2 separate regions of the Homo sapiens genome follow, and region 1 is linked to region 2. Evidence: fine-mapped expression QTL. A gene starts in region 2. The other region holds a variant in brackets. All regions are shown on one strand. Distances are between the middles of the regions.

The links. PIP is the estimated chance that this variant, and not a neighbour inherited with it, causes the effect. A credible set is the group of variants that fine-mapping cannot tell apart.
Region 1: its variant is the best candidate, but not a certain one, in a credible set for the expression of NMI in whole blood (TOPMed, PIP 0.88).

The regions. Positions count from the first base shown.
Region 1 is chr2:151,211,821-151,217,204 of GRCh38, reverse strand. No RefSeq gene overlaps it. Among named protein-coding and RNA genes, the nearest start is that of RBM43, 47 kb to the left of the region's middle. The variant C/T (reference allele first, on the strand shown) is at 2,979.
Region 2 is chr2:151,287,019-151,292,402 of GRCh38, reverse strand. NMI (N-myc and STAT interactor) reads left to right here and starts at 2,735. Exons shown (of 8, transcript NM_004688.3): 1 at 2,735-2,810. RefSeq lists enhancers at 2,147-2,566, 2,627-2,706, 3,097-3,146, 3,167-3,216, 4,017-4,186 and a silencer at 2,767-2,966.

The DNA.
Region 1 (5,384 bases), 75 kb after region 2:
TCTAAAGCTTTTTAATACACTTTCACTCTTGATGTAAAACTTGCCTCAGTCTCTCCTTCTGCCTTATGTCCCTCAGGTGAATTCTTTGTTCTGAGAAGCCAAGAATTGAGGTTGCTGCAGCCCCGTATGGATACTTTCCACTGATAACAACATGAGGGATGAGAAAATTAGAATATTCTAGCATTACTAATTTGCTTTATTATACACAGAATCATCTCAGAATACTAATACTAATACAACCACTGCCAATATGATCAGAGAAAAGACTTAGTTTTGTTGTAACTATTGTCTGTGGCTTTTGGTTTTGCTGTATATTTGTTTTGTCTGTTTTCATGTGACGATTTGGGGGGATTCAAATCTATGCTACTGTTCCTATAGCAGCATATGTTCCAAATCCCCTTTTGAAAAGTGGTGAAATATTCTTCCCTGGATAATTAAACATACACAAAGAGTAGTCCAATGGGCTGATGACTGTTTAATTTAGTCTAGGATGCGCTTTGTTGTTCACTACTAAAGGCCATTGTAGTGAACTAAAAGAACATTGTAGTGTACTAAAGTCCACATGGTGGTCTCTTCTGGTTCATCCTACTGGGGATTCTAGAATAAGTTCAGTCAAGCTGCAATAGCAGTCAGAAGGTGTCTCTGGGGCTGTGATCAGTAGAGGGCCCCAGGCACCGCTTGTAGAGGCTTAATCTAGCTAATAATCTCTTTTTTTGAGACCCAGTTTCACTTGTTGCGCAGGCTGGAGTGCAATGGCATGATCTCAGCTCACTGCAACCTCTGCCTCCCAGGTTCAAGTGATTCTCCTGCCTCAGCCTCCCGAACAGCTGGGATTACAGGCGTGCACCACCACGCCCGGCTAAATTTTGTATTTTTATTAGAGGTGGGGTTTCACCATGTTGGCCAGGCTGGTCTCGAACTCCTGACCTCCAGTTTTCCACCTGCCTTGGCCTCCCAAAGTGCTGGGATTACAGGTATGAGCCACTGCACCCGGCTCAATAATCTTAAGCAACTCTTCAAAACTACCAACATAAATAAACAATCTAAGTCAAAACAGTGTGATTGCTATCAAAATGCAGATTAAGAACCGTACCCTACTGCCTCTTTTCAATCAGATTGCTTCTCTACACCCCTTCTATGTAGATTTTCTGGAGCTGGCACTTGCAATAGTGAACATGTACTGTTTTGGTTGCCCATCACCCATTTCCCTTACTTTGGCACACACACTAATTTCCTTTTGAAGAATTAACTCTCCCTCTGGAAATTTTCTTTTTGGGATTGTCTACCCACTAAGCAGGCAAGTGACTCCAGCTTGGTTAATCAGATGCTCCTGGAACTTCCAGTCTTGATTGGAGCAATGCAGAAAGGGTACGAGATGCTAGGAGATTATTCGTTCCAGTGATGGTAGGTGTGGAGAATGTTGATTAATTCCACTTGCTTTGGAGCTACCCTGATTCCTAACCTTTTTTCGACTTGTTTCTCTGGTATTGCTATCAATTTTGTATGTCCCCTGATATCTACCTAATATATTCATGTTCTGTTTAAAGTTGTTTGTTACTTGTGACCAAACAACTATCACTGATTTAGTGGTGATCTCTGGAGTACATAAGAAATCTTGTCTATTTTAATTGCAATACCTCTTCTAGCAGTTCTGATCCTCTTTCCCTGCTCTATTTAAAAAACACACACTTTATAACTTACTTATTGTGTTTATTGTCTATCTCTTTCACTAAAATATAAGCTCTATGAATGCAAGGATTCTTGATTTAAATGTGTTTCTTTGACTCGTGTATCCCAAATACCTATGACAATTAGTGGAACATAGTAGGTACTCAAGAAATATTTGTAAATTTAATAAAGTCTTTAAGCCACTGATTTGTGAATTTCTTGATGGTCTATATGGAGCAATGCTTAGTGCCCAGTTTGTTGTAAAACCTTGGCATGTTTTTGCTGCAGATGGTTTGGTATGTTATCACTGAGTGGGTTAGGAGAAAATGTAATAACATGAGGACAGTAACCAGCTGCTTTGCATCTCCAAGGGTATGAACAAAACTCTGGGCTCAGATGGTTAAAGTTCTACACAATTGTCCAGATCTTGATATCTAACCAAAGTCCATTTTACTTTTTAAGGGAAATTTTGGAAATATCAATAGTAAGGTAAAAGTAGATTTGATTAAATGACTCAAAAGTAATGCATTCATTTTTGAATTTTTTTAAAATTTAAAATTTGCACTTATTCCAACAAAATGACACAGCACCCAATTGAGACTGAATGTCGTAATCGGACAGCAGATCTCAAGGTGGCAAGTACAGCCAGTAGAGGATGGCTAGTGTGATTTGAATAATATTGTAGAAACTGAGCCCAGAATGAGGTTATTACCAGAATGTTACAGTTGCTAGTGGAAGGTAAATTGAACAACTAATATTGGAACGGAAAGAAGAGTATTTATTAAGCAAGCATTAAGTTTTACATGAGATTTACATATGTTATTTTACATATGACTTTCATATGTTTTTTTCACTTTATCCTCAGAAGAAGCCTATGTGTTAACATCTTCATTTTATAAACAGAGAAACTGATATGAGAAGCTAGTTAACTTGTGGTCACACAAGAAAATGGCAGATCCAGAATCTGGCTCACGTTGACTGATTCTAAATTTCTGATACTTTCCACTACATCACCTCCAACCAAGAAATTAGTTATTAAGTCTGAAATTATAGAAAACAAGCCAACTTTTCTGGGTAAAGATGGTGGATGAATATAGGCAATAGCTATCACCCTCTTGTCGAACCCTAAGCCCCTCTAATCTAAACTTTTTTTTTTTTTGAGACGGAGTCTTGCTCTGTCACCCAGGCTGGAGTACAGTGGTGCAATCTTGGCTTACTGCAACCTTCACCTCCCAGGTTTAAGCGGTCCTCCCACCTGCCTCCCACCAGCCTCCCAAGTAGCTAAGATTATAGGCGTGTACCACCAGGCT[C/T]AGCTAATTGTTTTTGTGTTTTTAGTAGAGGCAGGGTTTCTCCATGTTGGCCAGGCTGGTCGCAAACTCCTGACCTCAAATGAACCACCTGCCTCAACCTCCCAAAGTGCTGGGATTACAGGCATGAGCCCCTGCGCCCGGCCTAAACTTTTTTTTTTTTTTTTTTTTTAAGGCATAAACACTTGAGGACAAGAGAATGGGAGAGAAAATGAATAAAATTTTGAAAATTGATAAGTAGATGGGAAAGTGGTAATTGATTAAGCAGATCTGACATGACTGAATCCTCACTAAGCAGTGGAGAAAGTTGAGAAACAAATTGATTTACACTGAGTTGAATCCCTAAGGCTTAATTAGAGCGGATACCTCTGTAAGTGCAAAGAAAGTAGTCTGATTTCTTTCAGAAGCAGTTAAGCTCCCTAGGCCTGCGTCCCGATTCTACAGAGTTGTATGACGGCTTGCTCTTCCATCATCATGGAAGAAGATTGAAGCTATATTCCCAGGAAATGTAACATGGAAGGGGTAACGTAGAAAGGATTCCAAGCACAATTGAGGACAGGGGCCCATACTGAAGGCAGGGAAGAAGGTAAAATTTGTATACTCAATTCTGAAATCACTGAATCACTGTCTTTCCCTACAAACCTCACAGAAAGCCAGCAGCCAGTCCCATACCCTATAGGAGAGGAATTCGGATGATCATTCTCTGGGGAATCTCAGCAGCCCATGGCTTTCCAAGAGGAGAGACCTAATGACATTAACGCTAGGGATTCCTTAGGGAAATAGCTGTCCTCATCGCTTGGAACTGGAGCCCATGGCAAAACAGCCCCACCTTTGTGCTCAAAACTTCTAATCAACTTTTTAATAAATGTAAACAAATTTAATTGTGGTAAAAAAACACATGAAATTTTTCATCTTAACCATTTTTAAGTGTAGAGTTCAGTAAGTATTTCAGAATATTCACATTGCTGTGTGACAGATCTCCAGAACATTTTCATCCTGCAAACCTGAAACTGTATGCTTATTGAACAACTCCCATTTCCCCCTCTTCCCTGGAAACCACCACACTTCTGTTTCTATGAGTTTGACCACTTCAGATCTCTTGCATAAGTGGACTCATACAATATTTGCCCTTCTGTGACTGGCTTATTTCACTTAGCATAATGTCCTCAAGTTGCATCCTTGTTGTATAGCATGTGACAAGATTTCCTTTTTTATTTAATATAAAATATTCCAGGTTTTAATCGACTTGTAAAGCTTCACTCTTAAGTATGTACAGACAATCTGCAATTATCAGGCATCAGAGCAAAGCTTCTTGTATGTAGTAAACAACATAAAACACCAAACAACTCAGGGATAAGATAACTTTACAAAAACTATCACTTAAAACCTCAGAGAAGGCCGGTCATGGTGGCTCATGCCTGTAATCCCAGCATTTTGGGAGGCTGAGGCAGGCAGATTACCTGAGGTCAGGAGTTCAAGACCAGCTTGGCCAACATGGCGAAACCGCGTCTCTACTAAAAACACAAAAATTAGCTGGGCATGGTGGCGTGTGCCTGTATTCCTAGCTACTTGTGAGGCTGAGGCAGGAGAATCGCTTGAACCCGGGCAGTGGAGGTTGCAGAGAGCCGAGATCGCGCCACTGTACTCCAGCCTGGGCAACAGAAGGGACTCTATCTGAAAACAAAAACAAAAACAAAACAAAACCTCAGAGAATAGGAGATTCCATACAGGAAGCAAGAATAGAATAATTGTAACAAAAAGATCAGTAAAAACAAAAACAAAGAGTTGTTGGGAAAACCTGAAAGAATGGTTGAAATGTAAAGCTGAATAATTTCTCAGAAAGTGGAAAAAAGAGAAAAAGGATGAAAAATGAGAGAAAAAAGATAAGAAAATTAGAGCACAACGTCAGGAAACCTAAAATCCAAAATAATAGGAATTTTACAAAGAGAAAACAGATAAAATAGAGGAGAGGAATTCATCAACAAAATAATTACAAAAATTATGCAGAACTGAAGCACATGAATTTCTTGGTTGAAGGGTCCACCTCATTCACTGCACAATGGTGCAGCATGATGAAATCTCAGGACACCAGGGACAATAAGGGAACTCTACCAATTTTATTTTATGTTTTTTTTACAAAGAGAGATAAAAAAGAATTCAAAGTTAGAATGGCATCAATATTGCAACAGCAATGCTGGAAACTCTAAGATAATGGAGAAATGTCTTCAAAATTATAATAGAAAATGATCTCCAATTTAAAATTATTTGCCCAGCTAATTTATTAATCAAGGTATCCAATGACTATTAAATTTGTAAGTGTCAAGGCTCTACTTTATCACTTTGTTTGCTGAGTAGCATTGCAGAAATAACGTCAGTTCAGGCCCGGCACAGTGGCTCATGCCTGTAATC
Region 2 (5,384 bases):
TACCTTCTGTCTGTGTCCTCACATGGCAGAAGAGGTCAACAAACTCCTTTGGACCTCTTTGATAAGGGCATTAATCTCATTCATTTAGGCTCCACCCTTTATGACCTAATCATCTCCCAAAGGCCCCAGCCCTAATACTGTCACCTTGGGGGTTAGGATTTCAACATACGAATTTTGGAGGAACACAAACATTTAGTCCATTGCACATCCCTCTGAGATTTTTCACCCGATCTTTCTTCTCAGTCTACTTTCTCTACCTTAATGAATCAACTCAATTTTCACCTCTTCTGTGAAGGAAACTTCCCTGACCTCCTCAGGTAGAGGGGACTACGCTCTCCTTTGTTTTTTACTACTTCTGGTATCCTACCCCTTCCAACACACATTAGACTGTATGTAATACTGGTGTGTGTGTGTGTGTGTGTCTTTATAGAAAGCCTGGGAGGAGTTCATTGCCATGTAGTCAGGGAGACAAATGTGTAACATAATATTCACCTCACATCTGTGTAGATTTACATGAGATATCCAAGGCACAGAGTGCTGCAGCTCATGTGCAACATATTTATTGAGTGCATGATAACATCAATAAATAACTTTTATATTAGGAGAGGGCGTAATTTACTAGAGCATTCCTCGAAAGGTCCCATCAGAAACTCCCCAAGATTTTAATAACTGTTCCTTGAAAAAAAGAATATATCGCTCAAATTGATTTGATAAGTTCAAGGTTGAATAAAGTTAAAATTTTTAATATGCACAAATTTTTAATTTTTCCCTGCAATACTTCTTGGAACTCTTAATGTGCCAATGTGCATTGTGAATTTCCAAAAGTGGATTCAGAATGCAGCATTTCCTAATTGTATTGGGCCATAAAATTCCATGTTCTCCATGTACCCTAGGACACAGTTTGGAGATATTGTTGAGAGTAGAGTATGATATCATTGTCACCATATATTAACTGCTTGATTTTGGGTCACCTCTTTATGCCTTAGTTTCCTCAACTGCAAAATGGGGATAATACCTTCCTGCCTGCTTCAGACAGGTGAAAAGAAATGGGAATAATACCTATATCTAATATTGTTGTTGGCAAAACAAAAAGGTTTATAAAATGTCCAGGAGTTCTTAGTAGATGTTAGCAATTACAATTATTAATAGTATGTCCAGGAGCCAACTCTTCATCTTCAGATCTCTAACACTTTGCAGAATACCAGATTTGAAGCTGAGTTAAATTCAGACTGTTAGTACATGTCTCAGCTTTAGAATGTAGGTGTCCAAAAAGACTTCCCCTCCACCTGTATCATTTGCCTTTTAAACAGAATCTGAGTCAATATATTAAGTTAGTCCTGTTCTGGCCATGGTCCTGTCCTTTAGTATCTTCTTGTAAAAAATAAAAATAAGAAGAAATGAGGTTCAACTAAATAACCTCGAGAGTTCATATTCCCTCTAAAATTTCAAGGTAAAACTAAAGTAATTCTTTCTCAAGTTGCAGCAGAAGGAGTTTTTGTATTTTCTAACTGGTCTGATAAGCACAAAGAAGTCGTTTTTTTTACTTAGAAATGCCATTTTACAGGAGGCTGAGGTGGTGGGATCACTTGGGCCAGAGCTCAAGATCAGCCTGGGAAACAGTTAGATACCTGCCCCCAGCACCCAAATTAAAAGTACAAAAAATCTGGGTGCGGTCGTGAATTCCTGTAATCCCAGCTACTTGGGAGTGGAGGTGGAAGGACTGCTTGAGCTCAGGAGTTGGAGACTGGGCAACAGAGCAAGACTCATCTCAAAAAAAAAAAAAAAAAAGAGAAATGTCACCACTTTAAACTGGTTCCCATCAACCTTTTTGATACAAAGAAATTTTACTTTTGTTAAACTATTTTAGACCACTGTATCAGTTATTATATGTGACTAGGTAGCATGATAACCTATAATTTATGCCTTGAAATAATTTTGACTCATTTTCTTCCCACATCTGTATTTATGAGCCGGGGCAGCTGTGGGGTGGTTCTTTGTGTGGGATTAAGAGACACTGCAGTTCTTGAAATAAACCAGATGTTTGAATTTTCAAAGGAAAAGTTCACACCTAGTGAAGTATTTATTTACAAGCTCCACAACAAAACAAGAGATTATAAGAAAACTTTCAAGGGACATGGGTCACAGAAACCAACAGGAACACCACAGCTTTCCCAACTTCATGGCCCCGGGGGATGTTACAAAAGACACAGAAACGCCGATCTTGTGCTGACTGTAAACATTTGTCAACTAGTGTTACAATGACTAAGAAATTACAAAAGAGTTACAATCTGATGAAGAGCGATTCCTGCTTTGACTTTATTTGGTTTCTATCCACTTTTCCAACATACCTTATAAAATACATGCAAAAAACTGGTTTTAGAAAGCGTTCCCTAAAATTAGTGTGTACGGAAACTTCAGGTATACTTCTGCTTTCCTCCGCAAAACCACCCCTTTTTAAAAATCGAAAGTGAAATTAGTTTTTTTTTCTGTTAGTGACTAATCATTGGAGACAACCATGTTTAGTATTTGAGCATTGGTTAAATGCTAAAGAAAAATCGCCGTTAAAGCAGTTTTCTTTTTCACTGTCTTTTTCTTTTCGCGGGGAACCCAGCTGTTCCTGCGAGGGCCACCTCCTCAGGAAGACCCCGCAGCTCTCCCGCGGCGCTTCTGCAGGAGGCAGCGACAGTTTCGAGAACCCGGGCCTTCCCCTCCCAGTGCCTCCCGGGGTTCCGGCGTTTCAGGCGCTGCTGTTTTCCGGGAAGGGCAGGCGCGCTGGGCCTTGGGGAGCTGCGCTCGGCGGGCGGACGCGGGTGAGTGGGGAGTCCCTTCCCCGGCTGCCACTCCCGCCGCTGGCAGTCCCGGGCTGGAGAGCCGGGGGTGGAAAGGGAGGTGGGAGCCCTCAGCGCCGACGGAAGTGGGACAGCGCCGGAGTTGAGACCCTGCTCCCCGGGAGCTGCCCGCAGCCGAGTCGCGGAGGCCACGCCGCCTTCGAGGGGGCGCACCTGCTCCTGGGCCCGCTGTGCAGTCTCTGGGCCGTCAGGGCTTCGAGCCTTGTCACTTGTTTGCTTTGCTTCATTGAGGAAATTGAAACATAAAGTTATTTGTGTTTCCTCGCTGTTTTCTCTCTTTTTTTTTTTTTTTTTTTTTTTTGAGACGGAGTCTCGCTCTGTCGCTCAGGCTGGAGTGCAGTGGCGCGATCTCGGCTCACTGCAAGCTCCGCCTCCCGGGTTCACGCCATTCTCCAGCCTCAGCCTCCCGAGTAGAGTAGCTGGGACTACAGGCGCCCGCCACCACGCCTGGCTAATTTTTTTTTTTGTATTTTTAGTAGAGACGGGGTTTCACCGTGTTAACCAGGATGGATACGATCTCCTGACCTCGTGATCCGCACGCCTCGGCCTCCCAAAGTGCTGGGATTACAGGCGTGAGCCACCGCGCCCGGCCCTCGCTGTTTTCTCCGAGTGTCTCTGGAGATAGTCCTTAGGAAAACGGATTTCTTAAGAAAACGATTCTTGGTAGGGGCAGTGTTGTGCAGTCATGGCTGGCGTGTCAGAATAGGCAAGGTTTTTCTTGAAGGAGACATCCGAAGGAGAATACTGTGTTTCCAGTCTGTACAACAGGCAGACGTTCTATTGCCTTTCTTTTTGCTGCCACGCATGCATATAGGAAGATTCGATTCTACACGGCCTGGCACCGCAGTTATATGATTGTATTACGGAAATACGGTGATGTTGATTTGTATCAGTTTTTTTAATTCGCTGCCATAACAAATTACATGGCTTTAGTGGCTTAAACACATAGGAACGCGCGCGCGCGCGCACACACACACACACACACACACTCACATACACAATTTACTATCTTAGGATTCTGTAGCAGTCCTACTGAGGTCTCACTGGGTTAAAATCAAAGTGTTGGCAGGGTTGCCTTCCTTTCTGGAAGCTCTTGGGGTGAATCCTCTTTCCATCTTCCGGAGGCCACCTACCTTATTTGGCTCAGCAGCCCTTCCTCCATCTTCAGGGCCAGCAACATTGCGCCTCTGAAAGTTCTTCCGGGGTCACATTTCACTCTTGACTCTTCTTCTGTCTTCCGCTTTCACTTTTAAGTAGCCTCATGATTACACTGGGCTCCCACAGATAATCCAGGATGCTCTCCATATTTAAAAGCAAGCTGATTAGCAACCTTAATTCAATCTGCAGCCTTAATTCTCCTTTGCAATATAAACTAACATAATCACAGATTCTTGGGATTAAGATGTGGACATCTTTGAGGGAGCCATTGTTTTGCCTACTACATGATTGCATAAAAGGAATGACCATACATCCCACTCATGCATAGAGCAAAAGTATCCAGATGCAAAAGATGCCAAAAGGGTTCTGGTGGTGTTAGATAGTAGACCATTTATGCTGAGAGCCTTTATTACAGGCTCTTGGAATATTGGCATTGTCACAATAATAAAAATAAAAAGCAATTAAATAACATTGCAGTTTCTGTCTTCTGAAATGTAATAAGAGGACTTCATATACATGTGATGTCCTGAGTACAACAAATACTTAAGTCAAGATACCACATAATTCTCTAAATGGAGTGTTTTCAGTGTGTAAGCTTATACTGAGAAAGTGCTCTGAATGTCTGCAGGGAGGAGTAGACATGGTCCCAGCCCTCAACATGTTTACTGATGTGTCACGGAAAATGACATAGGTACACACGTAATTAAAGCGCCGCAAAGGAGATAAAGGAGGGGGAGTAACATCCTTTGGGGGAATCAGAAAAGGCTTCGGGAGCTTGGGGAAAATTTGGAATGGACCTTGAAGAACAGTAAGATTTCATTAGATGGAGATTAAGTTTGGGAGAGGAGGAAGGATGTGACAGTTTGAGGGACAGAGGAAAGAAAAGGAACTATCCAAGTGTTCAGTGTGGTTAGGGAACTGGGTTGAGGAATTGACTAAATAGGACGGGAAAGTGAGTTGGAGTTAGAATGTATCAGACCATGGCTGACCATTAAGAAGATTTTGCAGTTGTTGATACAATAGCGATATATATGTATATATGTATGCGTGTGTGTGTGTGTGTGTGTATGTGTGTGAGAGAGAGAGAGAGAGATGTGGTTTAAATATATATATACTTATATATATATATCGTCTCAAGGCATCTCAAACTTACAGAAAAGTTGCAAGTACAGTAAAACAACTTTTCCTTTTCCTAAATTATTTAAGAATAAATTTCCAATCTGGTGACCTATCATCTTTCATTATATACTTGAGTATATATTTCCTACAAAAAAGATGTGCTCCGACATAACCACAATACAGTCATCAAAATCAGGAATGTGGAGTGCTACGTTACTACAATTTAATAATCAGATCCAATGTGAATTTCACCAGTTG